7 linked regions of the Homo sapiens genome follow. The protein of the gene in region 6 purifies or fractionates together with the protein of the main gene of each other region. This does not show direct contact. Each region holds a gene or a part of one and is shown on either strand. Other genes may lie near its edges.

Region 1 (4,077 bases), on a different chromosome or scaffold from region 6:
GAGACAAGCCTGGGAAACATGGTGAAACCTCATCTCTACAAAAAATACCAAAAAAAAAAAAAAAATTAGCCAGGCATGGTGGTGAGTGCCTGTAGTCCCAGCTACTTGGGAGGCTCAGGTGGGAGGATTGCTTGAGCCTGGGAAGCAGAGATGAGTGGGGTGTGCATTTACAGGAATGGGGGGACTTGAACGTAAGGTGGCTTGTAAGCAGCATGGTCTAGAAAGATGGACCGAGAGAGGGAGGCTCAGCATTCTGCTTCTGTATTGTGGCCTGGCTGGCTTGGATTTGCCTTCACTCCCATCAGTTGGGGAATGAATGTAGCAAGACTAACAATAAACATTATGAACTCTGAGGTTTGAAACTCTGGAAATCCCCAGCATGTCAAGGTGGCCCCCATGCTAGGCTTGGCTTGAAGGGTGGGTATGGTTTGGAAGGGGTGGGGGGCTGTGGAAACGAGTCCAACAAGATGGGCCCATTCTGAGCAGGAACCAGAGTTTTTCTCTACGGGTCTTACAGTTGCACTTTGTCACCCATCCAAGAGAAAACAAAAACAGAAACATTGGGGAGGGGACTTTTGCACCTGACTGGGGGTTGACTAGACCACCTGGGTCCCTTCCATCCCCCACACTCTATAAAATGTTCAGCAGCAGGACAATATGGAGACAAAATGGATTTGCTCACAGAATGTATACGTTTATTTTTTAACGGAGTTAATTCATGGCCGGGTGTTGTGGCTCCCACCTGTAATCCCAGCACTTTGGGAGGCTGAGGCGGGTGGATCACCTGAGGTCAGGAGTTCAAGATCAGCCTGGCCAAAATGGTGAAACCTCATCTCTACTAAAAATACAAAAATTAGCCAGGTGTGATGGCATGTACCTATAATCCCAGCTACTCAGGAGGCTGAGACAGGAGAATCGCTTGAATCTGGGAGGCGGAGGTTGCAGTGAGACGAGATCACACCACTGCACTCCAGCCTGGGCGACAGAGTGAGACTCCGTGTCAAAAAAAAAAAAAAAAAAGAAAAAAAGAAAGAAATTAATTCATATACCATAATTAAACAATTCCATAGTTTTTAGTATTTTTACCAAATCATGCAACCATTACTATTGTTCAACTCCAGAACATTTTCAAAACCTCCCAAAAACAAATCCCATGCCCACTAACAATTACTCCTCTATCCCCTGGCAACCACTAATCTATGTTCCATCTCCATGGATTTGCCTAGTATGTATATTTCATATAAATGGAATCATACAGTCTGTAGCCTTGTACATCTCTCTGGCTTGTTTCACTGAGAAGGATGTTTTCAGGGTTCACTGATGTCACAGCATGTGTCAGTACTTCATTCCTTTTTATGGCTGAGTAATCCAAGGAATATTCCATGGAAACATTTTATTAATCCACTCATCAGTTGACGGACATTTGGGATGTTTGGGCTTACTTTACAGGTGTAATCATGTAAGCATATTCTTTGCCTACTCCTTCCCACAAATTAAGGAAAATCAGTAGCAAAATGAAGGGCAAGCAACTAAAACAGCCAGCAACTGGCACACAGACAAGGAAAAGCACCTCTGGTTTTTAGGTTAAGCCAATGAAGAGTGGGGCCGAGATTTAGTATCCACCTAGTTCAAAACCCCTAACACTTTCCAAGCTTGTGTTCTGAGTTGAGTCGATCCACTAAACCATCAAGCGCACCCATGGGAAAGTCCTTGGATCAGCAGGAAGAGCTACAAATTACAGATCACTGGTTTTTAATCTGTCCTCCAGAGACTCCTAAGATTTCATGGAAGCAACTCATGGGCCACCAAGGGGGCTGTGGTTGGGGGTTAGATAGGTAGAACTCTGAGCCTGGTCCCCATCTCTGATTTAAATAGAACAGCCTTGATTGAATTGCTTTATTTGTGGGGTTTCTTCTAAGAGTTAATTTGGAACAAAGAAAGGGTGTTCTTGGCTTTAAAACAGCTTGGCAAGCATTCGTCAAGGTGGTTGTGGAATTGCTGGACTGTGACTGGGCCTCCCTGACAGCTGCTCTTACGAGTTCTTCTGAGGAACCTTGATGGTGACCGTCTTTACCTCTGTGTAGGCCTTAAGCCCATCCTCACCCAGCTCCCTCCCGTTTCCAGATTCCTTAAACCCTCCAAATGGCGTGTGGCAGGTGACGATGTTGTAGGTGTTTACCCACACGGTCCCGGCCTGGAGTGCCTGGGTGAAGTACATGGCCTTGTCCAGATCCCGGGTGAACACAGCCGCAGCCAGGCCATACCTGGTGTTGTTGGCCCTCTCAACCACCTCCTCAATCTTCTTGAACTTGAACAGGGGCTGCACAGGCCCAAAGATCTCCTCTTTGGCAATTCTCATGTCATCCTGCACGCCACCAAAGACAGTAGGCTTGATGAAGAAACCACGCTCCCCGAAACGCTCTCCGCCACAGAGGAGTTTTGCGCCCTCCTTCTGGCCAAGCTGGATGTAGCCTAGGACTCGTTCAAACTGCTCCTTGTCCACCTGAGGCCCCTGCTGGGTGTCCAGCTCAAAGGGGTTCCCCACTTTCCTCTGCTTTGCTTTCTCCACGGTTCTCTCGAGAAACTCATTGTAGATGGATTCTTCCACGAAGGTCCGGGAGCCAGCACAGCAGCACTGGCCCATGTTGAAGAACAGGGCTTCGTGGCACTGCTCCACGGCATGCTCCATGTCAGCATCGGCCAGCACGATGCTGGGGCTCTTACCACCCAGCTCCAGGGTGACTCTCTTGAGGTTGGAATCGCCAGCTGCTTTCTGGATCAGGTGGCCCACCTCGGTGGAACCGGTGAAGGCAACTTTGTCAACATCCACGTGCTGGGCGATGGCCGCACCTGCTGTTGGGCCATACCCCGTGATGATGTTCACCACCCCAGGGGGAAAGCCTGCCTCCTTGATGAGGGAGGCCAAATACAGGGCAGAGAGGGGGGTCTGCTCTGCCACCTTCATAACCACAGTGTTGCCTGTGGCGAGTGCCGGGGCAAGTTTCCAACCCTGCATGACCAAGGGGAAGTTCCACGGGATGATCTGGCCACAGACACCAACGGGCTCATGCCGGGTGAAGCAGAAATGCTGGCCATCCATGGGGATGGTCTTGCCATGCCACTTGTCAGCCCAGCCAGCAAAGTACCGATACACCTTGATGACCTCATCCAAGTCCAAGGCGTAAGACTCTTGGAAAGGCTTCCCATTGTCCAAGGTCTCGAGTGAGGCCAAGTAGACTCGATCCCGCTCCACTAGGTCTGCCAGGCGGTTCAGCAGCCGGCCCCGCTCAGAGGCATCCATCCGGCGCCATGGGGACCCCAGGCGGAAGGCTTCCCGGGCTGCTTTCACGGCCCGATCCACATCAGCCCGGTCACCTTCAGCCACGTGCCCAATGACCTCCCCGGTGGTAGGGTTGACCGTCGGGAAGGTCTTCTTGCTGACTGCATCTTGCCATTCATTGTTGATGAACAGCTGGTTGTAGGGGATGTCTGGGTTCAGAATGGGGCTTGGGAGGGCTGCTGCCGAGGAGTAGCGGGCGGTCCTGCCCTGGAGGCTAAGCAGCCGGGGTGCCAGGAAGCGCAGCATGCTGACACTCTGGAGAGGGACAAAAGAAACCAGGGTGAACAGGTGGGAGAAGGCAGGTGGCGGTACCCAAGGGCCCACCAGCTCAAACATTTCAAGATTCCAGCATAAAGGACTGTCACCTCTAAAAACACAGACTGTAAGAGCTGTGAGGGCCCTGATGAACTCTCTGGGCCAACTCCATCACGTCCCGCCTATCCTCAGCTCACTCCCTCACCTCTGCTGGGTCTCAAAAGCCACTGTCTCAGCAAGGCCTTCCCTGACCACCCTTTAAAAAATTGCAACCCTTCCCACCCCAACACTCTCTATCCCCGCTACCCTGCTTTACTCCTTCTCTATCTCACATCCCAAATACTATCTTTACAGGCTTATATGTTTGTCTGTCTCCCCCCAGTAAAATGCAAGCTCCATGAGCACAGGAACTTATTTTTCTGTTCCATTCACTGCTACGTCCCCGAGCCTAGAGGTATGCCTGCTACAGAGCAGCGGCTCAA
Region 2 (4,117 bases), on a different chromosome or scaffold from region 6:
CAATAAACCGGACCCCTGCATCCTGGCAGGCCTGGGCGAAGTCCGCTCGCTCAGAGAGGAACCCGTAGCCAGGGTGCACTGCATCTACGTTGTTCTCCTGCAGGTGGGGGTCAGGGAGAGGACGGTACCTTGCAGTCCCTTCCAAGGCCTCGGCCAGCCTCTTCCCCTGCCTAACCTGCTGAGCTGCATCCGTTTACCCACCCACGCACAGAGGCGCTGAGCACGCCAGCCTCAAGAGACCCCCGCGGCAACTAAGACTCCCTGGTCCCTGCTGTCCAGGCCCAGCCAGGCCACTGGGCTCACCTTGGCCACCTTGATGATGTCTGGGATGTGCAGGTAGGCCTGCACGGGGGCCAGGCCGCGGCCGATGAGATAGGCTTCATCTGCTTTCTGCCGGTGCATCTGGCCCGTGTCCTGCTCAGAGTAGATGGCTACGGTGCGGATGCCCAGCTCCGTGCAGGCCCGGAACACACGGATGGCAATCTCACCTAGAGGGCAAAGAAACAAGAAGTTAGATTCCTAGGTCCTAGGAGAAGCAGAAAGGGGAGTGGGAAGCCAGGGCCTGGGGCAGTGAGTGGGAGAAGAATGCCAAGGCTGGGGCGGCCATGAGGCTCCTCTCACCGGCCCCACTGGTGCTCACCTCTGTTGGCCACCATGACTTTCTTGATGGGCTTATACTCCAGGCGCCGGACATTTGGGGAGGCAGCGGGGGCGGTGGAGGTTCGGCGGATTCCCAGGAGCCTCAGGCCCCCATGGACTGTTCGGAACTTCAGCATCTAGGGAGGGAAGTTAGAGCCCAGGTTAGCGCAGCCTCAGCACTGAGGCTCCTCAGAATGAGTGAGGGCCCTTCCCAACCCCACAGTGGCCCCACAGAAAGGCTAGCACCATCTACCTCCTGATGCCTGGCCAAGCCCAACATTTCCTGGCTCTAGAGAAGGGAGCAAATCCAACCCCAAATGGAACCCCCAGCTCAGCCTGATATCCTAACTGTGACTTTATTGTTGTAGAGACAGGGTCTCCCTATGTTGCCTAGGCTGGTCGCAAATGATCCTCCCACCTCAGCCTCCTGAGTAGTTAAGACTACAGGTGTGAGCTGCCGTACCCAGCATAATATGCACTATAACTTTTAAAAGTATCAGGTTGGCCCACCCTGGCTAACACGGTGAAACCCCGTCTCTACTAAAAATACAAAAAAAAAAAAATTAGCCGGGCGTGGTGGCGGGCATCTGTAGTCCCAGCTACTTGGGAGGCTGAGGCAGGAGAATGGCATGAACCCAGGAGGCAGAGCTTGCAGCGAGCCGAGATCGTGCCACTGTACTCCAGCCTGGGCGACAGGGCAAGACTCCGTCTCAAAAAAAATAAAAGTATCAGGTTGGGCGCGGTGGCTCATGCCTGTAATCCCAGCACTTTGGGAGGCTGAAGTGGGAGGAGCACCTTACATCAGGAGTTCGAGACCAGCCTGGCCAACATGGTGAAACCCCGCCTCTTACTAAAAATATAAAAATTAGCCGGGCATGGTGGCACACGCCTGTAATTCTAGCTACTCAGGAGGCTGAGGCACGAGAATCGCTTGAACCTAGAAGACAGAGGTTGCAGTGAGCTGAGATTGCGCCACTGCCCTCAGCCTGGGTGACATCAAGACTCTGTCCCAGGAAAAAAAAAAAGTATAATACTTCAGGTTGGGCACGGTGGCTCACACCTGTAAACCCAGCACTTTGGGAGGCCAAGGCACATTTGTGTGAGCTCAAGAGTTTGAAACCCACCTGGGCAACATGGTGAAACCCTGTCTCTACAGAAAATATAAAACTTAGCCAGGCATGGTGGCACATGCCTGTAATCCCAGCTACTTGGGAGGGTGAGGCATGAGAATCACTTGAGCCTGGGAGGTGGAGGTTGCAGTGAGCTGAGATGGCACCACTGTACCAGTCTGGGTGACACAGCAAGACTCCATCTTTAAAAAATATATATATATTATATATAATATATTATATATAAAATATAAAATATTATATATAATATAATATAAATATATATAATATATTATATATATTATATATTATATTATATATAAAATATATATTATATATAATATAATATATAATATTATATATATTATATAATATTATATATTATATTATATATTATAATATATATTATATATAATATTATAATATTATATAATATTATATATATATTTAAATCAACTGACGACAACTTATATCCCTGAATGCAAAGAGGCTTCAGAGGTTGGCCAGCCCTTCATTTGTAAAATGAAGGAAACCAAGGTACAGTGGAGACTAAAAAGACAGCTGCCCAGCACAGAGCCCAAGCCAAACCAGACACACTCTTTTCACCCCTGCATCTGGGCCTCATCTAACCATCTGATTCATTTCTTTCTTTTGAGACGGAGTCTCGCTCTTGTTGCCCAGGCTGGAGTGCAATGGCATGATCTCTGCTCACTGTAACCTCTGCCTCCCAGGTTCAGGCAATTCTCCTGCCTCAGCCTCCCAAGTAGCTGGGATTATAGGCATGCACCACCATGCCTGGCTAATTTTGTTTTTGTTTTGTTTCTTTTCTTTTTTCTTTTTTTTTTTGAGACAGAGTCTTGCTCTGTCACCCAGGCTGGAGCGCAATGGTGCGATCTCGGCTCACTGCAACCTCCGCCTCCTGGGTTCGAGTGATTCTCCTGCCTCAGCCTCCCGAGTAGCTGGAATTACAGGCACCCGCCACCACGCCCAGCTAATTTTTGTATTTTTAGTAGAGACAGGGTTTCACCATCTTGGCCAGGCTGGCCTCGACCTCCTGACCTCAGGCGATCCACCTGCCTTGGCCTCCCAAAGTGCTGGGATTACAGGTGTGAACCACCACGCCTGGCTGTATTTTAAATAAAGATGGGGTTTCACCATGTTGGCCAGGCTGGTCTTGAACTCCTGACCTCAAGTGGTCTACCCGCCTCGGCCTCACAAAGTGCTAGCATTACAGGTGTGAGCCACCACACCCGGCCGATCTGATTCATTTCTTAGAAAACGTTTAAAACACTTGACTCAGCCATTTTGTTTTAAGTAAGGAACATAAAAACATACTCAAGAAATGAAACAAATATTGCAAAAACCTTAGTGCCATATTACAGCCAACAACCTAGAAAAGGGGAAATAAAGACAGAAGAAAAAGAAAAGAGAAGAAACAAGGAAATAAGTAGAAGAAAGAGAAGAGGAGGAGGAGGAAAGACCCACAGCCAGGGGAGAAAAACAGAAAACCCCACTAGGGGCAGACCTTATGCCAGGCACAGTTCTAAGCCTTAGGAGTCGAGAACACAACAGTGAAGGGTTCTGCTCATGGAAGATGAATGGCAGTGAAAGGAGCAAAGAAAAGAAAAACAAGACACAAATCAGAACATTTCAGATCACAAGTGCCTGGAAGATAAGAAACAGGTGACATTTTGCGAATGATCTGGGGCGGGTGCAGGGGTTTGGGGGCTGGATATTAGAAAAGGCCTCTCTGAGGAGGGGACACAGAAGCTGGGACCTGGATGGGGAGAAGTCGGCCACGCACAGATCCGCAGAGAAAGCTCCAGGAAGAAGGGATAGCAATTGTGAAGTTCTCAGGAAGAACAGGCTTGGTGCTGTCCTGAGAGAGGGAAGTGTGAGCCCACGGCCTGAGGTGGGGCTGCAGCCACAGACAGGGCCCAGTGGTTGAGGCCTCCCTTCAGCCATGGACAGGACAGGAGGGACATGATCGATGCACAGTGGAAAGGATCTCTCTGGACTGGCGAGCAGCAGGGGCTGACAGACGACGCATGTCTGGGGCAATTCAGAGGCTGAGCTGAGAGACGCGGAGCCTCTGACAGGGGGAAGCTATGGGGGTCGGGGTGGGGCTTAGGAAACATCTGGGCTATGACAGACAAGATTCGTCGAGAGACCCCCCATAGAAAGCAAGGTAGAGGAAGAAATCCTGTATGGGTGGGTGGAGATGACTTTTCCTGCTATAAGAAGGGCAAGACAGAAAAGGCAGGGCTGGGAGTGAGGCAAGCTCACAGAGGGGGAAGAGCAGGGACAAGAACCTGGGCAGCATCACAGGGGCGGTGGTGTCTGAAGCCAGGGAGAGAACAGCCTGGGAG
Region 3 (4,117 bases), on a different chromosome or scaffold from region 6:
CATGGAAGCCTCTACCAACAATCTAGAGCTACTAAACCATTATAAACAGAAAAGGCCTCCAGAAAGAAAGATGCTGGGACAAATGTGGACAATCTGCATCCCTCCTGGCAGACTCTCAGATCTTTAAAAAAGATATACAAATATAAAAAAAGGTAAATGGTACCCGGATACACACAGTGTGTGGAAGTAGAAACCCCTCAATGTACCCTTTCCAAAATTAAAAACAAAAAACTGGGTAAAGCCTTGTTGAAAACTGGGTCACTAGTAAGCTCAGAGAAGGTATTAAGAAGCATCGCTGAAAAGATTAGAGTCTGTTAACACCTAAATCTTCTGATTAAAAACTTCAGGTCAGAAAGATATTTAGTTCTTTGTCTCCACTCTCGTTCTAATAAAAGGAAGGACAAGAGAGACTATAACTTAACAGAATTCCAAATGTATTTGGCATTTGGCTGAAGTGATATTGCCAAACTACCAGAACTATGGCAAAAGATATTGTAAGAAAACCCACAAAAGGTATTTAGTGGCTTGACACCATAAATGTGCGAGTGGCCTTTAGCTGCAAAAAATGATTAATCTTTCCATTTTAAACCAACTTCACCCTCCTTACCTCCAATATATTTCTATAGTGTCCGTCTTTCCTAATTTTGTGACAATTACAAATACATATGATATAAATATAAGAAAGATTCTGCGTACTGAGTGGAAGATGCCAGACACAAAAGAGAATATGGTTTCACAAAGTATAAATGAGCAAAAAAATCATGCTGTTGGAAGTCAAATAAATAGTTACCACTGAGGGACGGTTAAAATTGGAAGGAGGTACTGGTAAAACTCTGTCTTGATTCAGTGCTGATTAACTAGTATGTTCCATTTAGGAACATTTAGCAGGCTGTCCACTTCTATGTATATTTTCCTGTATGCATTTGACACTTCCATAAAGTAAATGTATATGTGTGTATTATATGTACATAATCTGAATTTTGAGTTCCCTAAAATATCATATCAGGTAGCAGGATATTAGAACTCAATCGTAAAGGTGTTGACACCAAATAGACTTTAGCAAGAGAGTGGGTGCCAAAGGCCAATATTTTCGCTGCAAAAACAGACTTTTCTTTATTTACTCAACCCGAGAGCCATAAAGAATGAACTTCAGACTTTGAATGTCTGTGTTAACCAATTAAGACAACAAAAGGAAAAATAATAACAAAGTGGTCACAGTTTCGAGTTTATTAAAGATTTATGTTAAGCGGGAGCGGGGGGATTACATCCCCTTTCAATTTAGTAAATGTAATTTTTTTTAGTCCTTTATTTCAGATTCCACTTAATAGTTTCCCAACCAACAAACAAGACATTTCGTGCAAGATTACAGTCAAGCCAAGTGTATCCACCCACCAACAACAGGTCAAGTTACAAGTAAAATAGTTCTAGGTTTTTCCCAGCAGCAAACAAATCAGTATCTGTACTCAGTTACACTACAGAATATTCACCGGAACTTGTCTGCAGTGGGTCATTTCAAGATGTGGACATGTATATTAAAATATGCCAAATAACATTATTAGTGTGCGAAAAAGTAATGCAAAGTGTTCAAATATGGAAAATGTTTGAACATTAAACATTAAAACTTTTCAAAAATTGGTGGTGGAATATCTTGCATTTACTTTCACCCTGAAGAATATGGAAAAAAGAGTTTCAAAAAAAATGTGTGGTCTTGTGGCCTGAGAGTTTATAGGCTTTCAGAAAGTATTTTAAGTTCCAAGATTCATTAAAAAAAATTATTTTTGAGTACTTACCAGCATATTATTTGTTGATCAAAACTATTAGAAGAACTTTTAAAAACTGATTATGAATGCTTCTAAAATGTTTTTTCTCTCCTAAAGACCACAGGAAAAAAGAATGAAAATCTTAACCAAGCATTATGTTTTGGCTTCAGATGCCAAAAGAAAGCAAAATATTTAAGGCCAAGATTAAACAGAGAGTGTAATTCAAAAGTTAATTATTTAAAGAAAAAAAAATCAACTAAGTAGAGAGAAACTGAAACTCTTCTTTATTGTGACAGTCATTCTCTGGGTATTATACAAAAAGGGCTGCAGTCTGATAAAGGGAGAAACCCGTATGCTTTGTAGTCAAGCCCAACTTGAATATGACAAATATGGTTTTATTCTGGATTCTCATATTCAGAATGTTTGAGTTCCAGTTTTACCATCTCTAAAATGAGAGCAAAACCACCTATCTCATAGAGTTACAGAAACAATGAACTGAAACATAATAGTTTCCTTCCCTGAAATTAAAAATACTTAATTTCTGAGGTTTAATACTAACAGACATTGGCTTGAAAAACTCTTTAAAGAGGCAGCAGCAAATACCTAGTTTCAAGGGTTTTCTCTGCTGTATCTGCTCTACTGAGTTCTGTGAATGACGTACTGACAATTACCAAATATAAAATAAATTGAGGAATGTCTTAAAACTGCAGATGTGGGAAAAAACTAAAAGGGCAATCCTTACAACCTTTAACGAAAGCAGTAACATCAAAATCCAATATTTAGTGCAACAGAAGAAAGTTAAGAAAACTCAAAGTGTATTTTAGTAATGAAGGGAGAAAAGAGTCATTTTACATTTTTAGTGCCAGTGATTTCTGGAATAATAAAAACTCCAAACTATGCACCTTTTAATTTACTTTTTAAAACTAATTATTTAATCCACCCAAACATTAAGTAACATATCAGAATGGAAAGAAAATCTGGGCATACATGTTTTAAATTATAATGGCCAATTAATGTTTTTAATTACACAAAAATCAGTATTAAAATTAAAACTACAATATATGGGAGTAGGTAAGTACACTATCTAATTTTTAAATTATAGCTAGGTATATTTTATGAAAGAAAATCTAAGAACAGATCATGGATCAAACATCTCTGCATTATAATTCCCATACCATATGTATAATAGCAACTCTTTTTAAATAGCTCAAGCTGCTTTAAAGCACTATACAACTAATTCTCCCAATGCTACTTTGAAAAACCCAAGTTAAACTGCTTACTTAATCAAGGCAGTGGGTACACTAGAACTCTCATTCATATACTAAATGTTCTTCTGTATCTCCAGTTCCACATACTAGTAAGGTCCACTTTCAATTACACTTCCACTATTAGAACAGATGAAAAGTTAAACATTCAATCAGTCAGGAGAATGTGAAATATTACCATGGTTTACCCAACTATTATAATCTCTCAGGCACTGAGAACTCAGCATAAAGTGGTTATTCCATGATGTCAGCATGGAAACGTATCCATTATTTAGCTATCCATTAATTCAGCCAATCTTCCTTTGGATCTACTTATAGCTCAGGCTGCTATAGGTTGTTCTAAACCTAACTTGGATTGTCCTAGTGTTAGTTTAGGTTATCTTCATTCTTAAATCTACTGTTTGATTGTATATTTCTCAGTTATAGCTTATATTGTGGTCTGTGTCAAATTAATCCTCATTCAGAAGCCTGAAATCCTCATTTATTTTGGTTGTCCTTCTCTGTAGCTTTTTTAAATTTTATTTTGAGGTGGAGTCTCGCTCTGTTGCCCAGGCTGGAGTGCAGTGGCATGATCTCGGCTCACTGCAACCTCCGCCTCCCGGGTTCAAGTGATTCTCCTGCCTCAGCCTTCCAAGCACCTAAGATTACGGGTGCCTACCATCATGCCCAGCTAATTTTTTGTATTTTTAGTAGAGACAGGGTTTCACCGTGTTAGGCAGGATGGTCTTGATCTCCTAACCTCGTGATCCACCTGCCTTGGCCTCCCAAAGTGCTGGGATTACAGGCATCAGCCACCATGCCTGGCCCTCTGTAGCTTTTTTAGGTTCATGACTATTCCCAAAACATGAGGTGGCTTAACAATCGCTTTCTTGAACCTGAACTAGTAGAAAATGTTTTGTTCCCTACAGCAGGGGTTATTAAATTTAGCTTAACATTATGCCATAATTTCTTAAATCATTTCTTACTCATGGACTTTTAGAGATCAAATAATCCAATCTTTCGTAATCATAAGCAATGCTTCAATAAATATCTTCGTATATGTATCTATACCATGTGTTTGTCATAAATACATGCATACCTGTACCAAAAAAA
Region 4 (4,117 bases), on a different chromosome or scaffold from region 6:
TTGATTTTCCCACTTACACTGGCTGGTGGTCACACATTGATCTGCCTCCCTCACTCTAGGCTGGGAGCTCCTTAAGAGCAGGGCCCCAGTTCTGCCTGTATCTCTCTGTCTTGCACAATGCCTAGCCCAGGCTAGGTGCTGGGTGTTTGCTCAACGAAGGGCCTGGTACTCTGTGGGAACCCTGGGGCCTGGCCTACCTTCACATTGACAAGGTGGTAATTAACCCGGAGCTCGTACTTCTTCAGCACTTGCAGAAGTGCTTCCGCTGTCTCGCGGGAAGTGAAAAACTCTAAGTAGGCCTGTGGGAGAGACAGGTGCCTGTCACCAACCCCAGCCCTGCCAGACGCCCTTTCGCAGACACCTAAGGTATCAGGACTACTGGCAGCCATGTGGGCGGAATAATGAACTGTGGCGTTGGCACGTCCATAAGCAAAGGGTGAGGGGAGTGGGGACGTGAGTTTCTCAGTCTGGACAGGTCTGAGGGCTATCAGCCACCCCTCTCCCAATCAGTCAGGGAAGACTCCACGAAGAAGCCATTTCTGAACAGCAGCAACTGGTTTGACAGGCCGAGTCATGGGAGAGAGGCCCCACACATTCCATCCTCCCCAGTGCAAGCTGACAATGACATTGACATCTCCTCTAGAACCAGTGCCTATCAGGGATTAAGCTGGGTTTACTCAAACTCATTTGCTAGAATGCTGATAATACGGGAGGCTGGGCACAGTGAGCCCCACGTGAGGAAAGTGGGTTCAGGGAAGTTGAGCACGTTGGCTACTCTGACAGTAAACAGTAGAGCTGGTCCTTAAACTCAGGTCTTTCTGCTCCAGGGCCTGTGGGCCTTAGATCAGAACATAATGTTAACTCCAGCAGCCCTGGGAGAAAGGTGTCAACTCAGGATAGTAACAGCAGCTGCCTTTCAGGGAGTGCTTCCTGCTCTTACCATGTGCCAAGCACGTTACATGCTTTGTTAGGTTTCATGCCCAGAACACAAGCTACATCCCATTTTACAGACGAGAAAACCAGGCTCAGAGAGGTCGAGTGACCTGCCTCCATAGGTCTGATTTCTATCTTTTTTTTTTTTTTTTTGAGATGGAGTCTTGCTCTGTTGCCCAGGCTGGAGTGCAGTGGCATGATCTCAGCTCACTGCAACCTCCGTCTCCCGGGTTCAAGCGATTCTCCTGCCTCAGCCTCCCAAGTAGCTGCAACTACAGGTGCCCGCCACCACACCCGGCTAATTGTTGTATTTTTAGTAGAGATGGGGTTTCATCATGTTTGTCAGGCTGGTCTCGAACTCCTGACCTTGTGATCTGCCCACCTTGGCCTCCTAAAGTGCTGGGATTACAGGCATGAGCCACCAAGCCCAGCCAATCTTTTTTTTTTTTTTTTTTTTTTTTTTTTGAGACAGGGTCTCACTTTGTGGGCCAGGCTGGAGTGCAGAGGCACAAATATGGCTTACTGGAGGCTCAACCTCTCGGACTCAAGCGATCCTCTCACCCCAGCCCCCTAAGTACCTGGGACTACAGGTGTACACCACCATGCCTCGGTCATTTTTGTATTTTTTGTAGAGAATGGGTTTCACCATGTTGCCCAGGCTGGTCTCGAACTCCTGGGCTCAAGTGATCCACCCGCCTTGGCCTCCCAAAGTGCTGGCCGGGTTCCGTGCCCAGCCAGGTCTATCTGACTTAAAGCATGAGCTCCCATCCGCTCCAATCCATGCTCATTCAAAATTTAAGAGCCCAGGAGAGGCAGGCTGCTCTGCCCTAAGCTCTGGGGAACCCACGGGTGCCGGTCAAGAGAGGGGGGCACCCCGTGCCTCCCTACCACACCTTCTGGAAGACATAGCCCCCGCTGGGGCCCCAGCCCACGATGGGGTCGGAGGACGGCTTCCCGTTGATGTTGGGCTGTGAGTTGATGGTGAGGATGCCCTGGCGGTTCACCCGCAGCAGCTCCTCCTTCAGCAGGCTGGTCTCAGCCGCCAGGGGCTCATCGTTCCAGGGCAGGCAAGTCACCTGGGAGAGACGGTGAGCTGGCTGGGGCGACCATCAGGTTTGGCACCCTGAGTCCCTCTCACGGCCCCCAACAAAGACCCAGCCTGTCTTTGCCTCCCTAAGCCCTTCCAGGTGGAGGTCTCCCAACTTACCCTTCTCCCTTTGCCATGTCCACAGCATGGAGGGGAGGGCACAGGATGGGGAAGTCACAGCCCCGCAGCCTGGCCTGCAGCTGGGGTCAGGCCAGGGGCAGGGGATGAACCAGGGTCCCCACTCCAGCATCACTCACTTTGTGACCATTCCGGTTTGGTTCTCCCGAGAGGTAAAGAACGAAGACTTCAAAGACACTTTCTTCACTGGTCAGCTCCTCCCCCCACATCTTCAGCAGCTCCTCCTTGGGGGACTTGCTCTTCAGGTAGAAGAGGTAGTAGTCCTTCAGCTCCCCAAAGGCAGGGGAAGAGGAATTGCCCCTGGCAGAGGGGTGCCCAGAGGTCAGGGCACACTCCTGACAGAGGGCAGTGCCACCACATGCCCAGGAGGCCATTCCTGTAAATTCTGCCCCTGACTCCTCCCAGGTCAACCACAAGCATGCAAACTTCTTCTGCCCTCCCGCTCCCAAGAACAAAGATGTATTTGCAAGGAAGGTCTGCAGGCCCTCACCAGCGGCCGTTAGGGAACTCGTCCCACTCCTGGGTACGGTAGATGTAACTCTTTGGTCTGGAGGCCCAGAAGATGGGACGTACATCTTCCTCTCGGCGCTTGGGGTGGGCGCTGAGAGCCCAGGGTAGGGGACGCCTGGGTGAGGATGGGGACAGAGAATTGAGACAAGGGATTGGCTAGAGGGAGCCGGAAGCAGGGGAGCACCCCTGAGGCTGAGTTCTTCCATCTGATGCCCTCTGAGACTGGAGCCTTCGATGTGCCCAGCTAGCCATGGCACAGACATCCATCTGTACCACCGTGGGGAGCCAGCACTGCAGCCGGGGCTGCTCTTGGACCCTCCTCTGGGGATCTCTGGGCCACTGCCCTCACCTGGGGTCCTCAGTCCACATCCCCAGGCGCTTCAGCACCTCTGTGGTAGCCATCTCGCGGTTGAGGGTGTAGAAGTGGAGGCCTGGCACCAAGCCACTGGCCAGAAGCTCCTGGCACAGGCTCACGGCCAGCTCGATGCCATAGTTGCGGATGGCAGCATCGTTGTCTTTGATTGGCTCAATCACGTCCTTGATCTCCTGTGGCACCTCCAGCTTGGACAGCTTCACAAGCTGCCGAAGGGAGTGGTAGCCCTGTCCAAGACATGAGGGGCTGTGGCGGCTGCTGGCCAGCCCGTCTCCCACCCTAAATACTTCTCCCCCTTCCATCATCCATGCCAACCACAGTGTCAGGCAGAGGGACCCACGAAAGTCCGATCATATTCTAGGAGCACACCTGGGCTTGGCCTGCCGTTTTCTCCTCTTTTTTCTGTTTTTAGAGACTGAGTCTCACTGCTCTCAAACGCCAGGGCTCAAGCCATCCTCCTGCCTCAGCTTCTCAAGTAGCCGGGACTACAGGCACGTGCCACTATGCCCAGCTTTCCCACTTTTTACAGAGTAGAGCAGCTGCCCTAAGCATTCCAGCCTTGGGTTGAGCCAGCCTTTTAGCCCTAGATGTGTCTGTTGGTAACATGGTGTCATCTAACCCAGCTGTTCCCATGCTGCACTGATCATCCGAATCACCTGCCAAGCTCAAGAAGTAAAACACACATTCCGAGGACCTCCCTCAGATTTACTGAGTGAGAACCTCCAGGGGTGGGACCTGGAGATCCACTTTTTGAAAAAGCTTATCAAGTGGTTCTGATGACAGCCACCTTTGGGAAACACTGATTTAAGCAGGATTTGTAATGAGAATTAGAATCCCTTTTGGTGATGCTTGTTGGCCAAAGTACAACAAACCCCTCAACAGACACTGTTGCTGGGTTTTGGGGGGAAAATTAGAGGTAACCAAAATGGGGTGGCCAAGCAACGCTGTGCAAGTTCTGGACCTGAGAGGAGATCTGGGAAGAACTCAGCGAACTCAGCACTCCACCCAGAGCCCCCAGCCTGTGCGAGGACGGTGCGGTGAGAGTGGGGTGGAGGGAGCTTATGGGCTCTCCTGGG
Region 5 (4,117 bases), on a different chromosome or scaffold from region 6:
AGAGAGAGAGGAGAGAGAGAGAGGAGGAGTCACACTGTGTGTGATGATGGCAGGGGTACAATGGCAAGCCAGATCTAGAGAGCCAGGCCTGGATTCTTCCCAGGATGCCCCACTGCTCAGTGGAGAAGAAAGGACATCACTGGGCTTGCCAAAGGCCACTTGGCAGCCAGAGGCCCAGGGGAGGACAGTAGAAAAGCCTACCTCTAAAGAGGCCTGGATTCCAGTCCCATCCCAGACCCTAATGAAAATGAGGCAACAAGTGTCAGCTGCTTAGCACTGCCCAGCAAGGGCTCAGTAAAGGGCAAGGCTATCACTATCACTTGAATTTGACAAATCCCCAAATCCCCAACTCCCCAATCCTCTCTGAGCCTCAAGTGTCCTTAGCTATAAAATGTGGTGCGGCAGAAGGAGGGGGTAGAGAAGCATTTCCCAAGCTTCAAGCATTCTTATACCACCTGCACAGCTTTTACCCTAGCTTCTTAACTGCTGTACCCTTATTCACTTAGTACTTTACTTTAGACCATCTTTAAATCAGCTTTATTAAATTCAACTTTATTTTAAATAATTATATCATGAACTCATGCTAGTTATGTTTTTTCTATTATATGCTAAATGCTGTTAAAACAGATATATTTAAGCAAACCTAAATAATAATGTGTACCACCTAAAATAATCTCTCATGCCACACTCTGGAAAACACAAGACTCAACAAGCAATAAGGGCCCTCAGGCTCTTGCTATGGCTCCAGCTTTAAGGCCTCATCCATGGAGACCACAGTTCTGATCCAACAGGCAGCCTCAGAAATCTGCCTGTGCTCCAAAGACAATACCAGAACTGGGAAGGGGGTGGCAGAGTTTAGATGGGCCAAAGTGGGGTCACCAACCTTGGGGATGGTCTCGCTCACAGCATAGCTGGCCTTGTCACTGACCCACACCTTCTCCCTTGGGGAGAGGTCAGCACACAGGGCCTTGAGCTCGCTCAGGATGGACTTGTAGGGATGCACCTGGATCCTGTATTCGGCTTCCAGACCCAAGTCAAGAAGCAGGTGCTCCTTCACACTGGGGGCGTCTATGCGGTCACCATCAATGAAGAGCCTGCAGATGGAGGAGAGGTGGGTGGCAGAAAAAGGAGGGAACATGAGTGAGAGGTGGCAACACAGACACACATACACATCAGGCTCTGTTTCCTGGCAACCAAAACCAAGCCCCTTTTCTCTCCTCCCCACTCCTTTCCCAAATCCTGCCCTCCAAGGTGCATTCCCTGCCCCCATCCACCCAATCTGCCAAGCCAGAAATCTGGGCAGTGTCCTCCTTCACTGATGACCCTCTTCCCGTCCTTCATTAAGACCTTGGGACCCACAGCCTAAATCTCCATCTAATCTGTCCAGCTCATCTACAGCCTCGCCCAGTCACCACTCAGGTTCAGGTCCCACCATCTCTCACTTGGGTTAGTGCCACAGCCTCTAAGTCTTTCCCCATCTACCGATGTTTCAGTCATAATATTCTTTACAACTTGTACATCTAACATGTGGTTCCCTCTGAAAAATTCGTTCAATAGCTTCCCACTATTCTTGTTCAGAAAAAGAACCCAAGCTCCTGAATGTGGCCCACAAGGCCTCTCTTTTCTGTGGCCCCTGCTCACATTCTGGCCTCACTATGTTCTGACCTCACTGAACCACTTCAGGTCCTCCACATGCACTGTGCTCTCTACTGTCCAGAGTCTCTGAAAATGCTGTTCCCTCTGCTTGGATCATGGTTCCCCGCCCCTCCTCACCCTGCCATTCACCTAACTCACCCACATTTATCCTTACTCTCTGCTTCAAAATATTACTTTCCCCAAGAGTCTGCTCTGATCTCCAAGTCTAGGTCAGGCCCCTCTCGTAACACCTGTATCTGTCCCACAAGCAGACTGGTGCCCACTTATGTGCCCAAATACTTTAGAAAGAGGACATGCTCATCTCCCCAACTCCAGCCAAGGACCCCGTCCTGTTTCAGTCACCCTAGCACCTAACAGAGACCCTTAGCACATCACCAGCACTTAATAAATGTGTTGTCTTAATGCAAAAAGCTATTGAAATAGAACAGTAATGAAAAGAAGGCCACACGAAATGCTTTGAAAAAATAAACTGACAATTCAACAAAGCGTAGTTGGAGGGGTTTTCCCATATTATTTTTGACCTTCAAAATGACTGGGTTTATTTGCATTGTGGACCCAGAATTGTATAATTGAGCATATATACCCCTTAACACTGGCTGCTAGAAAACTTGACATCAAATGGGTGGCCCGAACTATAGACACTTTCATGCGTTTCAAACCATTTTGGGGGCTCAAAGAGAGGCAGGATATAAATAAACACCTACTGCTAAGGAAAACAAGAAGGGAAAATGTTAAAAGGGCAAGAAAAAAGAAGCACATCAGTGAAATATCAGGCAGTGATGGGTGGGCCAGGACCAGAAAGGGCACACTAGGGCTCTGAGGAGCTCTGGAAGGGAGTTCCAGATGCAGGGCAAACACTCACATGATCGTCTCTAGTCCTATGATTGCGTAGGAGAAAAATACTGGATTGTGCTCCACATCTGATCCTCGGAGATTAAATAGCCCTAGAAAAGAAATCAAAATCCCTGTCACCTGTCTGACTTAAGATGTTAAGGGGTCGCTTGTAGCGGGAGGGAAGAGCTTCAGCTTGGAGTCCAGCTGCTGCGCAAGGATTCAGTGGAATCGCACAGAAAGGCTGGAAGCCTGACTCCCGTCTGGTTCCACCTCTGAGCTGCAATTGCTCATGTCCACCACGTGATGGCACCAGAGCTGTTTCTCAGGCTTCCACATCACTGCCCGGAGAAGGGAATAAAAGCTATTAGTTGAAATCCTGAGAACTGCCCCCACAAGGAGTTGAAATGATCCGCCTAGTGGTGACCTGCCAGGCCTGGCCTTGAAGCCGACAAACCTCTGGCGCTCCCAAATAAAAAGGAAGGAGACGAGCACTCTCTCCCTTCTGAGGCAGATGACCTAGGGTAGAAAAACTGAGACCCTCCCACAAGGGAAGCCAGGCAAGCCTCCTCTGTAAGGGTCAGTGAGCCCCATGGAGACGGAGCTTCCTGTCAGAGGTGGAAAGAAAAGCAGTGAGTCAGCAAGGCTGCAGCTCACCAATGAAATCAGAGCCTGCAGCCCACCCATGGGTCTGCTCTGGCACCACGACTGGGTGGGGGACCTGCGGACAGCCAGTAACAGTGATGTTGCTGAACGTCTGAGAACTAGACAGACCAGGAGAGAGCACAGTTCTGGTCCCAGGACTTCCAGCTTCCGTCACTTGTTCTCATGAGGATCAGAGCAAAAAAACGCCTGGGCATTAAAAGTATAACCTCTATTTTAAAATAATGGCTTCTTAAAGTGATGAGGCACCATTTTTTACCTATCATACTAGCACTTCTTTAAAAATGACAGTACCTGGTGTTCAGGTGTGGCAAGACAGACAAATTCAAATACAAAGGTGCAAACTTTCTGGCAGACAAAGGGCAAGATGAGTCAAAAGCCCTAAAAGCCAACCAGAAATAGGAAGAAAATTATCAAACACTAAGACATGGATTCATGAACCAAGATTTTGATGGTAGCATCATAATAAATTACAGGATTACTGCAAATAACCCAAAGGTCATCCTTAGGGAAACAGTTAAATAAATTATGGTATAACCACATGATGGAGTATTTAATACTCACTTAAAATTATGCTTGTATATGCTTATAGTGTACTGATACAGTGAAAAAATCAGGCTATAAAATGATATATGCATAGAATATTGACACTGATTATCTCTAAGTAACAGAATTTATACGTGATTTTTTTTTTCTTCTTTTTACTTCCTCTGCATTTTCCAAGTTTTCTATCATGGGATTGTGTTTTTGTTACAATCAGGGAGAGAGAAAAGTTTTACAGGTGTTTTTCTCTGACGTTGAGATCATTAAGTTAATTAGGGATGTAAGTCACTGACACACTTGACAATGTTTTGTGGATGGAAGATGCAGGGACTGAAGAGAGAGGACACTGCAGTAGGGTCTCATTCTCTAGTGAGAAGGCAAAAAGATAAAGCAGTGCCTCTTCTCAGTTGCCCTGGGTCAAATC
Region 6 (3,704 bases):
TAGCAAGACTGAACGAAACAAAATTTAAAAGCAGGCAAGCCCTGTACCTCCTTTTGGTCTTGCAAAGCGTGAGCTGAGGAGGCGAGTGAGCAACTCCTCTACTCCCCAGCACTCATTCTTGTAAGGTGAAGGTGGAAACACCTCCTGCTACTGCTTGTGACCACATGGAAGATGATAGTGAAGGCTGGCATTTGGTTTGCAGAAGGACATGAGGAATCAGTTTCTTTTCTTTTCCTTTTTTTTTTTTTTGAGATGGAGTCTTGCTCTGTCACCCAGGCTGGAGTGCAGTGGCAAGATCTCGGCTCACTGCAACCTCCGCCTCCCAGGTTCAAGCGATTCTCCTGCCTCAGCCTCCCAAGTAGCTGGGATTACAGGCACACGCCACCATGCCCAGCTAATTTTTGTATTTTTAGTAGAGATGGGGTTTCACCATGTTGGTCAGGCTGGTCTCAAATTCCTGACCTCAGGTGATCCATCTGCCTTGGCCTCCCAGAGTGCTAGGATTATAGGCATGAGCCACCACGCCCGGCAGGGATCAGTTTCTGAGTTTTTTAACAGGATCAGTGACTTGATTTTTAATATGTAACAAGAGTACCCACTTTATTGACAACTATAAAATGATGTTCTATCTTTATGCCTTGGGCTTTCTTTCTGAAGGAAAAGTGAAAGTAAAGATGACTTTACGTTTATTTTAGACATGGCCTTGCTCTGTCGCCCAGGCAATCGGATGATCATGGCTCACTGTGGCCTCAACCTCCTAGCCTCAAGCAATCCTCCTGCCTTAGCATCCCAAGTAGCTGGAACTACAGGCACATGCCATCATATCCAGCTAATTTTTTATTTCCTGTAGAGATGGGGGTCTCACTATGTTGCCCAGGGTGGTTTAGAACTCCTGGCCTCAAGTGATCCTCTCCACCTCAGCCTGGGATTATAGGCGTGAGCCACTGTGCCCAGCATTAGTTTATTTGTAATGCTTTTTTACATCCTAGATGAGCACAATGCCTGGACTCCCCACCCGGCCCTGTTTTTATGATATTGATTTGGACCCTGAAACAGAACAGGTGAATGGATTATTCTAAACAGGTAAGTTGTTACTGGGTAATAATTTGGCTTTTTTCCTCATGTAGCTTATTTATGAATTATAGGGCTCAAACTGACGCTATAAAAATTCACATTCTAATGCTTTCAAAACATTTCTTTTCAGACTTCCCTGAGGGGAGAGGGGATAGTAATGAGAGTTGGCAATAACCAATGAATTGAAATATTTATATTTCAACACATTTTTGGAAGAAGCGCAGCATGGCTTGTCACAGGTTGACAGTGTAGGGGAGAAAACTGCTGTCCAATAAACTACAGAGGAAACTACAGGAGAGGTTAGACTCCCTCTGCTGAAGCCCCAGGAGGCTTGGGGTTCAGAGTTGATGACACATTGCAGGTCAGGAACAGCTGACGGTCTGTATACTCTGAATAGGTAGTTAGAAGGCAAGAATTAGCAAATGTCTTAGGAAGTATAATAGAAAAGAGAAGGAAACAGGACCAATCTGGCAGTTCTTAGGGCCTTAGGTGAAAGGGCCCTGAGTACCGACTGCAATGAGTGACATTGCATTGTTTGATATTTTTGAAATTTCAACAGGACGTGTCTCTCCTTAGGCAGACCCTTGGGGCTGAAGCAGCAAGTTGCAGTGTGCACTTATATCCCTAGACACATCCTGTTGAAACTGCAAAAATATCAAACATGAAAATCCTAACATCTTTCTCCAGAGACGAAAAAAGTGGCTTGCCTATGAAAAGAATGAGAACTAGACTTAACGCCCGTCTTACTGGCAATAAGAAGCTTTTAGACAATGGAGGAGTGTCCTGTAAGGTCACAGGGAAGATGACTTTCAACATGTGCTCACACCTAGCCGAATCTATCTGGATATTTTCAGACGTGCAAGGGTTTGCCACCCCACATCTCTTCCTAAGAAGTTATTTAGCAATGTACTTAGCAAAATGAGGAATTAACCAAGAAAAAAGGAAGACGTGAGTTTTGGGAAACTGAACCCTCATTTGGACATTAGCGAAGGGGCATTCTGATAACCATGCAAATGACCTGAAGTTACAAATCCTGTGTGGAACAGGTTGGGGGAGCACCTGAGAAAAACTAGAAAAAGCTAGAAAAGACAAGGATATCAAAGGGTCATAGTATAAAACAAAAGCTCTTGCATTATTTGAGAAAGTTAAGGTCCAAGTAGAAGCAAACTGTAGTTTGATGCTAGAACACTATTCTTTGAGAGGGTATGTGTGATACTCGAAATGCAGTCATGGCTCACGGCTTGGTCTGGTCTTGAACAGTATTCACACAGTACTATGGAAATACCATGCATCATTTTCAAGTCCATTTATGGACACGCCCTAGAAGAGCTGGTGGCAGGAAAGGATGTAAATGTTAACAGCTTTGGCAATGTGAGTGGGTAATGGTGCAGTATGGAAGGAACAGGAAACATTTCAGTGCTTGCTTAGAGAAAACATTTATTTCTTGTTTTTCCTTCCAGATCACCATCCATCTTCAAGAAGCTACTTTGAAAGTCTGGCCAGTGTCTATTCAGGCCCACTGGGAGTTAGGAAGTATAAGTAAGCCAAGAGAAGTCAGCCCCTGCCCAGAAGATCTGAAACTAATAGTAGGAGTTTCCCCAGAAGTCATTTTCAGCCTTAATTCTCATCATGTATAAATTAACATAAATCATGCATGTCTGTTTACTTTAGTGACGTTCCACAGAATAAAAGGAAACAAGTTTGCCATCTTGGTGTTGCAATATGAATTACAGCCTTAACAGACTGTGCCACAGGTCTCTGCCATCCTTTGTGAGCTCATTTGTCAGGCAGACCCTTGGGCTGAAGATGCAAGTTGCAGTGTGCCCTTTATGATACTGTTGTGTTTAGAGGGAAATGTATGCATGCTTGTGTATTTCTGAGAGGACACATAATTCAGGGGACCTCCTGAGAGGGTTGGGTTGGAAGTTGATGACTTACCTTTTAATCTTATACCTTTCTATATTGTTGAATTTTGTTTTTCTACCCTGAGGAAGTATTGCTTATACAAGTTTTTGCCTGAACTTCCTTGGAATTCCCATTTCTGTCACAGCTTTAGCACTGTCTATGTTTAGAGTGCTCAAGAAGGATGGTCATGCAGCATTAGCCTTAGGTGAGCCTCTATTCTGTTGGTGCAGCAAGTATTCATTGAGTTTCTTCTAAATGCCTGGGCTCCACCCTTCCCTACAGACTTTTTATTTTTATTTTTATTTTTTTGAGACAGTGTCTCTGTCGCCCAGGCTGGAGTGCAGTGGCGCGATCTCAGCTCACTGCAACCTCCGTCTCCTGGGTTCAAGTGATTCTCCTGCCTCAGCCTCCCAAGTAGCTGGGATTATAGGCATGAGCCACCATACCTGGCCCAGACTTTCTTTTTCCTAAAACATTAGGTTGGTAAAAACCACAATTACTTTTGCACCAACCTAATATTTTTTTTCCTCCTCTTCTGGCTGGGCGTGGAGGTGGCTCATGCCTGTAATCCCAGCACTTTGGGAGGCCGAGGTGGGCGGATCACTTGAGGTCTGGGGTTCAAGACCAGCTTGGCCAACATGGTAAAACCCTGTTTCTACCAAAAATACAAAAATTAGCTGGGTGTGGTGGCAGGCACCTATAACCCCAGGTACTTGGGAGGCTGA
Region 7 (4,633 bases), on a different chromosome or scaffold from region 6:
GGGTATATTTGGAGTCCTTTATTTAAGACCACAGTGCTGATGTCCACAATCTGTCACTACATAGTGCCTGGTGTGGTGGCTCATGTCTGTAATCCCAGCACTTTGGGAGGCTGTGGCGGGCAGATCGCTTGAGTCCAGGAGTTCAAGACCAGCATAGCCAACATGGTGAAACCCCTACAAAAATAAAAAATTAGCCGGGCTTGGTGGCACAAACCTGTAGTCTCAGCTACTGGAAAGGCTGAGGTGGGAGGTCAAGGATTCAGCGAGCTGTGATCGTGCCACTGCATTGCAGCCTGGGCGACAGAGTGAGGCCCTGTCTCAAAAAATGAAATAAAGTAAAAAATAAAAATAACTACATAGCGAAAATAATCAGAAGAATGTTTAAGGTCTCCAGTGAAAGGACAACAGGCTTGTTGTGCTGTTCGCAAGCACGTGTTAGATGCGATTCACTCATGTTGTTGGTGTGTCACTGGGGGTTGTGACTGCAAGTTGTCCAGGTTCTTGGCATTGTGAACAAAGAATTGGACAAAACGCCCAGCAAAGCAAAGAAAGAACAAGGCAACGAAAGAACGAAAGCAGGGATTTACCGAAAACGAAAGTGCACTCCACAATGTGGGAGCGGACCGAGCAGAGCTCAAGGGCCCGGATATAGAATCTTCTTGGGTCCAAATACCCACTAGAAGTTTCCTATTGGCCATTTTATGCTCACCTCAAACCCGATTGGTTGCAAGAAGCAAGCAGTCAGAGGCTAGGGTGAAATTACAAAGTTATACTTCTATGCAAACGAAGACTGGACCCCCAATCAGTCTGATTGGTTGTGGACAGCAACCATTCAGAGGCTGGAGTTAAGGTTCAAACTTGGCAAAGCAAGCCTCCACCAGCAGTAAGTCTGATTTGTCGGGGACAGCCAATTTCCTATCTGCCCTGCGGAAAAGGTGGGGGGGTTTGCAAAGGGAGTAGCCTTTGGTCCTTTTGTTACTTAGGCATGGAAAGTTAGGGTTTTCCTTTCAGTTTAGCTCTAGGAAGTCAGCGTGAGACAGCCTTAGGTTCCCTGCTTCCAGACTTATTCTCCTGCCTTAGGTACAGTCACTATCGTGATATTATCTATCGCTGTGTCAACACAACACCAATCCAAGCCCAACCGCAGCTCTCTCACTGCCGCACCGCTTCGTGAGGGTCGATCCGCCGGGGAGACCTGCTCTCCTGCGCTCGGGACTAGACGCGACCTCGCGGGGCTGAGGCTCTGTCCCTTATTGGCTGGGTCAGGGGGCGTGGCGCGGCTTGACCAATCGCGGGCGGCGCGCTTAGGCACGTGTGTGGACAGGCCTGAGAATCAGAGAAACCTTCTCTGGGGCTGCAAGGACCTGAGCTCAGCTTCCGCCCCAGCCAGGGAAGCGGCAGGGGAAAGCACCGGCTCCAGGCCAGCGTGGGCCGCTCTCTCGCTCGGTGCCCGCCGCCATGTGGGCCGTCCTGAGGTTAGCCCTGCGGCCGTGTGCCCGCGCCTCTCCCGCCGGGCCGCGCGCCTATCACGGGGACTCGGTGGCCTCGCTGGGCACCCAGCCGGACTTGGGCTCTGCCCTCTACCAGGTAGGCTGAGCGCCCCGGTGGCCTGGCCGCCGGTGCCAGGCTAGGAAGCAAGTGGAGGAGGGGCACGCTTCAACAACTGCTGCTCTCTTGTCCGGAGCCCCAGTTGATTCTGTGACGCACGTGAAGTTTGAAGAAGAAAAGCCTAACAGATACAAGAAAGTTTAGTTCACTTTTAGAGCTGGCACTGTACTTTGTGTCTTTGAAATCAGTGGTTCTTAAAGCCTGGTTTAGAATTGCCACCTGGGGAGCTAGCTGAATAGCTGCCTGAGCCCTACTCTGGACCTTGTGGGTCTCAGGTGGAGTCGCTGTGTTTATATTGTTAGTGAACTCATTAGGGGACTTTTGGCAGCCAGCTTTGGGAACCACTGGCCTAGAGCAGCCCAACGAGGGGCGCTGTGCTTAGGAAATTTGAGTTTAAAAGTTGATTATGATGGCCGAGCCCAGTGGCTCACGCCTGTAATCCCAGCGCTTTGGGAGGCCCTGGCGGGTGGATTACCTGAGATCAGGAGTTCGAGAACAGCCTGGCCAACGTGGTGAAACCCCATCTCTACTAAGAATACAAAAATTAGCCGGGCATGGTGGCGCGCGCCTGTAATCCCAGCTACCTGGGAGGCTGAGGCAGGGGAATCGCTTGAACTTGGGAGGCGGAGGTTGCAGTGAGCTGAGATCGTGCCATTGCACTCCAGCCTTGGCAACAAGAGCGAACTCTGTCTCAAAAAAAAAAAAAAAAAAAAGTTGGTTATGTTAATAGAAAATATCCCACAGTATCTTTGAGTGGCTTTTCTTGGAATTAGGAGGCATCATAAGGCCAAAAAACTCAAAACTTGCGAAATATCAGAGCTGGAAAATTTCACTGTGTTCCCACGATTTCTAAGCCTATACAGATAACATCTAAATAGTGCAAACAACACACAATTGTTTGTCAGTCCAGAATGTTTAATTCAGAATTATTAAGTGGTTATTGTGGTCTAGGCACTATTTTAGATATTTGGCATGGATGCGTAGGAATGGAACTAATAATTTTGTAGGGAAGATGGACAAGAAAGCAGGTAACTGTGGTACAGTGTAAGAAGGGTTGTCTAAAGCTTGAGAAGGTGGTTACAGAAAGCTACCGATAGGAAGTAATGGGTGAGATGAATCTTGGGTAAGAGCTGGCCAAGTTCAGGGTGCAGGATGGAAGGTAAGACTGTATAAACCAAGAGAGTTACAAGAACATAGGTACTGAGTTATGAAAGTGTATATCTGGTGTGAGGACTTGAATTCCATGTCTAGGACATGGAATTCATTGAATAGTGTCTGGTGATGGGATTGATTGATTATGGGGCCAGATAGAGGAGGATCTTCCATGCAAAAGCCACATTTAGATTCCATTTGGCAGGTTGTCCATTAAAATATTTAAGTAGATAAGTGGCATGATCCTATGGATATGGTAGAATCATCAGTGTGGTGGCAATGTGGAGGATGGATTGATATAGGGAAAAGACTAGACCTAGGTGACAGTGGAGAGTTGAGTCTTGAGATGAAGGAGTCAAAGTTAGAGTTGTATGTAGGAGGGGGGCATAAATACCTGAGGAGCAAAGATTATAGAGTTAATAACTGAGTGGAAGGGGAAAATGGATGACTTTGGAGTTTCCAACTGGGCAGAATATTTAGTTAGGTGGAACTGCCATTAATACAAAGAAGGCTTTGGTGATGGGTTTTGTATGAATCACCTTTTGCTAGGTTGCGCTTTGTGTAACAAATAATCAAAAAATCTCAGTAACTCACAACAGTAAATATTAGTCTCTCACTTGATTTTGTTTTGTTTCTTAATCTCTCACTCGTGTTGGTGGCCTTTGGTTAGCTGCTGCTGTGACTGTTCCACTGCAGGGTAGGTTCAGGTCTGCTCCATGTGTCTTCCCATTCCTGGACTGAGGCTGAAGAGCAGCCCTGAATTAAACATGCCCTTCTCATGGCCGAAGGCACAGGAGCAAGAGGCTGAACACAAATTGGATTTAAAATCCTTGCTGGCATGTGATGAAATTAATGTGTGCTCACATTAGACAAAGCAAGTCCATGAGGGTGGGGGAGAATGGGATGAATGATCCAGTTTAGCTGTGTTTCCTGATTACAAATAAAAGCAACTATAATAAGTAATAATAATGGCAGGAATTTTATAGTGTACCCACCATTTTTCTAAAGGCTTTATGTGGTTTTACTCATGTATTTATCATAATGATCCTGTGCAGTAGGTACAATTGTTATTTCTGTTTTATAGATGGGAAAACTGTGGTATATAGGGTCCAAGAAATTTGTCTGAGATAACACAGAGCCTGAATTTGAAGCCAGGTGGTCTGGCTCATAACTCTTGAGTCCAGGGTCTTAACTGTTGCTCTATAATGCTTCTCACTCACCCAGCTCTACCTAGGTGGGTTCTATGGTTGAAAAGATGGGGTGGGAAACTTGTCAGTGGCTCAGCTCCAATTCATTATGACTGTCAGGCACTAACCTCTGTGGTTGCTCAGCTTCACAAGAAAATTACTAGGTTGTAGAATGTTGTTTCGCAGGTGATTAAAACACACACACACACACACACAAACACAAACACCTGGCGTCCTGAGAGATCAAGATTTGCCAAATGCAGTATCAGTAAGTAGGGAAACTGAAAGTTGAACTTGGTTTTGCCACTAAACTACACTGCCTCTTGGTTAGTGAGTCTCATCCTAAGGAGGCTAGGTTGGTTGATAAAGGATTGCCTGGGAGGTGAACTGTAGCCAGTACTGGCTCTTCTGTGATTTAAGTCTGATGGGCTGAGCTTGGCACAGATGTTGCCCAGTCTGTAGAGGCAAATGTCAGCTTCAGTGGGTCAGTGCTTTTCTTCTTTGACCCACTGGTTGCTTAAAAGTACGTTGTTTAATTTCCATATATTTGTGAATTTTCCAGTCATCCTTCTGCCATTGATTTCTAGTTTCATTCCATTGTGATTGAAAGGATACTTTTGGGCCAGGCATGGTGGCTCAGGCCTGTAATCCTAGCGCTTTGGGAGGCCGAGGCTGGTGGATCACCT

Evidence for each region.
Region 1: the proteins of MTHFD1 (region 6) and ALDH1B1 fractionate together in Homo sapiens (co-fractionation; one large-scale study listed by BioGRID). This does not show direct contact.
Region 2: the proteins of MTHFD1 (region 6) and PC fractionate together in Homo sapiens (co-fractionation; one large-scale study listed by BioGRID). This does not show direct contact.
Region 3: the proteins of MTHFD1 (region 6) and CDH2 fractionate together in Homo sapiens (co-fractionation; one large-scale study listed by BioGRID). This does not show direct contact.
Region 4: the proteins of MTHFD1 (region 6) and MTHFR purify together in Homo sapiens (co-immunoprecipitation; one study listed by IntAct). This does not show direct contact.
Region 5: the proteins of MTHFD1 (region 6) and XPNPEP1 fractionate together in Homo sapiens (co-fractionation; one large-scale study listed by BioGRID). This does not show direct contact.
Region 7: the proteins of MTHFD1 (region 6) and MCCC2 fractionate together in Homo sapiens (co-fractionation; one large-scale study listed by BioGRID). This does not show direct contact.

Annotation. Positions count from the first base shown.
Region 1 is NC_000009.12:38,395,258-38,399,334, reverse strand, and holds the end of ALDH1B1 (aldehyde dehydrogenase X, mitochondrial precursor), read right to left. Parts: intron 3,596-4,077; coding exon of another isoform or gene 3,587-3,595; coding exon 2,033-3,586; 3' UTR 674-2,032; downstream 1-673. UniProt on the Homo sapiens protein: ALDHs play a major role in the detoxification of alcohol-derived acetaldehyde. They are involved in the metabolism of corticosteroids, biogenic amines, neurotransmitters, and lipid peroxidation.
Region 2 is NC_000011.10:66,871,384-66,875,500, forward strand, and holds part of PC (pyruvate carboxylase, mitochondrial precursor), read right to left. Parts: intron 777-4,117; coding exon 641-776; intron 489-640; coding exon 304-488; intron 98-303; coding exon 1-97. UniProt on the Homo sapiens protein: Pyruvate carboxylase catalyzes a 2-step reaction, involving the ATP-dependent carboxylation of the covalently attached biotin in the first step and the transfer of the carboxyl group to pyruvate in the second.
Region 3 is NC_000018.10:28,166,814-28,170,930, forward strand, and holds part of CDH2 (cadherin-2 isoform 1 preproprotein), read right to left. Parts: intron 1-4,117. UniProt on the Homo sapiens protein: Calcium-dependent cell adhesion protein; preferentially mediates homotypic cell-cell adhesion by dimerization with a CDH2 chain from another cell. Cadherins may thus contribute to the sorting of heterogeneous cell types.
Region 4 is NC_000001.11:11,792,081-11,796,197, forward strand, and holds part of MTHFR (methylenetetrahydrofolate reductase (NADPH)), read right to left. Parts: intron 3,269-4,117; coding exon 3,018-3,268; intron 2,784-3,017; coding exon 2,649-2,783; intron 2,459-2,648; coding exon 2,278-2,458; intron 2,010-2,277; coding exon 1,827-2,009; intron 300-1,826; coding exon 198-299; intron 1-197. UniProt on the Homo sapiens protein: Catalyzes the conversion of 5,10-methylenetetrahydrofolate to 5-methyltetrahydrofolate, a cosubstrate for homocysteine remethylation to methionine. Represents a key regulatory connection between the folate and methionine cycles.
Region 5 is NC_000010.11:109,881,549-109,885,665, forward strand, and holds part of XPNPEP1 (xaa-Pro aminopeptidase 1), read right to left. Parts: intron 2,601-4,117; coding exon 2,519-2,600; intron 1,095-2,518; coding exon 884-1,094; intron 1-883. UniProt on the Homo sapiens protein: Metalloaminopeptidase that catalyzes the removal of a penultimate prolyl residue from the N-termini of peptides, such as Arg-Pro-Pro. Contributes to the degradation of bradykinin.
Region 6 is NC_000014.9:64,457,225-64,460,928, forward strand, and holds the end of MTHFD1 (C-1-tetrahydrofolate synthase, cytoplasmic), read left to right. Parts: intron 1-989; coding exon 990-1,079; 3' UTR 1,080-1,083; intron 1,084-2,534; coding exon of another isoform or gene 2,535-2,711; 3' UTR 2,712-2,801; downstream 2,802-3,704. UniProt on the Homo sapiens protein: Trifunctional enzyme that catalyzes the interconversion of three forms of one-carbon-substituted tetrahydrofolate: (6R)-5,10-methylene-5,6,7,8-tetrahydrofolate, 5,10-methenyltetrahydrofolate and (6S)-10-formyltetrahydrofolate.
Region 7 is NC_000005.10:71,585,968-71,590,600, forward strand, and holds the start of MCCC2 (methylcrotonoyl-CoA carboxylase beta chain, mitochondrial isoform 1 precursor), read left to right. Parts: upstream 1-1,372; 5' UTR 1,373-1,458; coding exon 1,459-1,587; intron 1,588-4,633. UniProt on the Homo sapiens protein: Carboxyltransferase subunit of the 3-methylcrotonyl-CoA carboxylase, an enzyme that catalyzes the conversion of 3-methylcrotonyl-CoA to 3-methylglutaconyl-CoA, a critical step for leucine and isovaleric acid catabolism.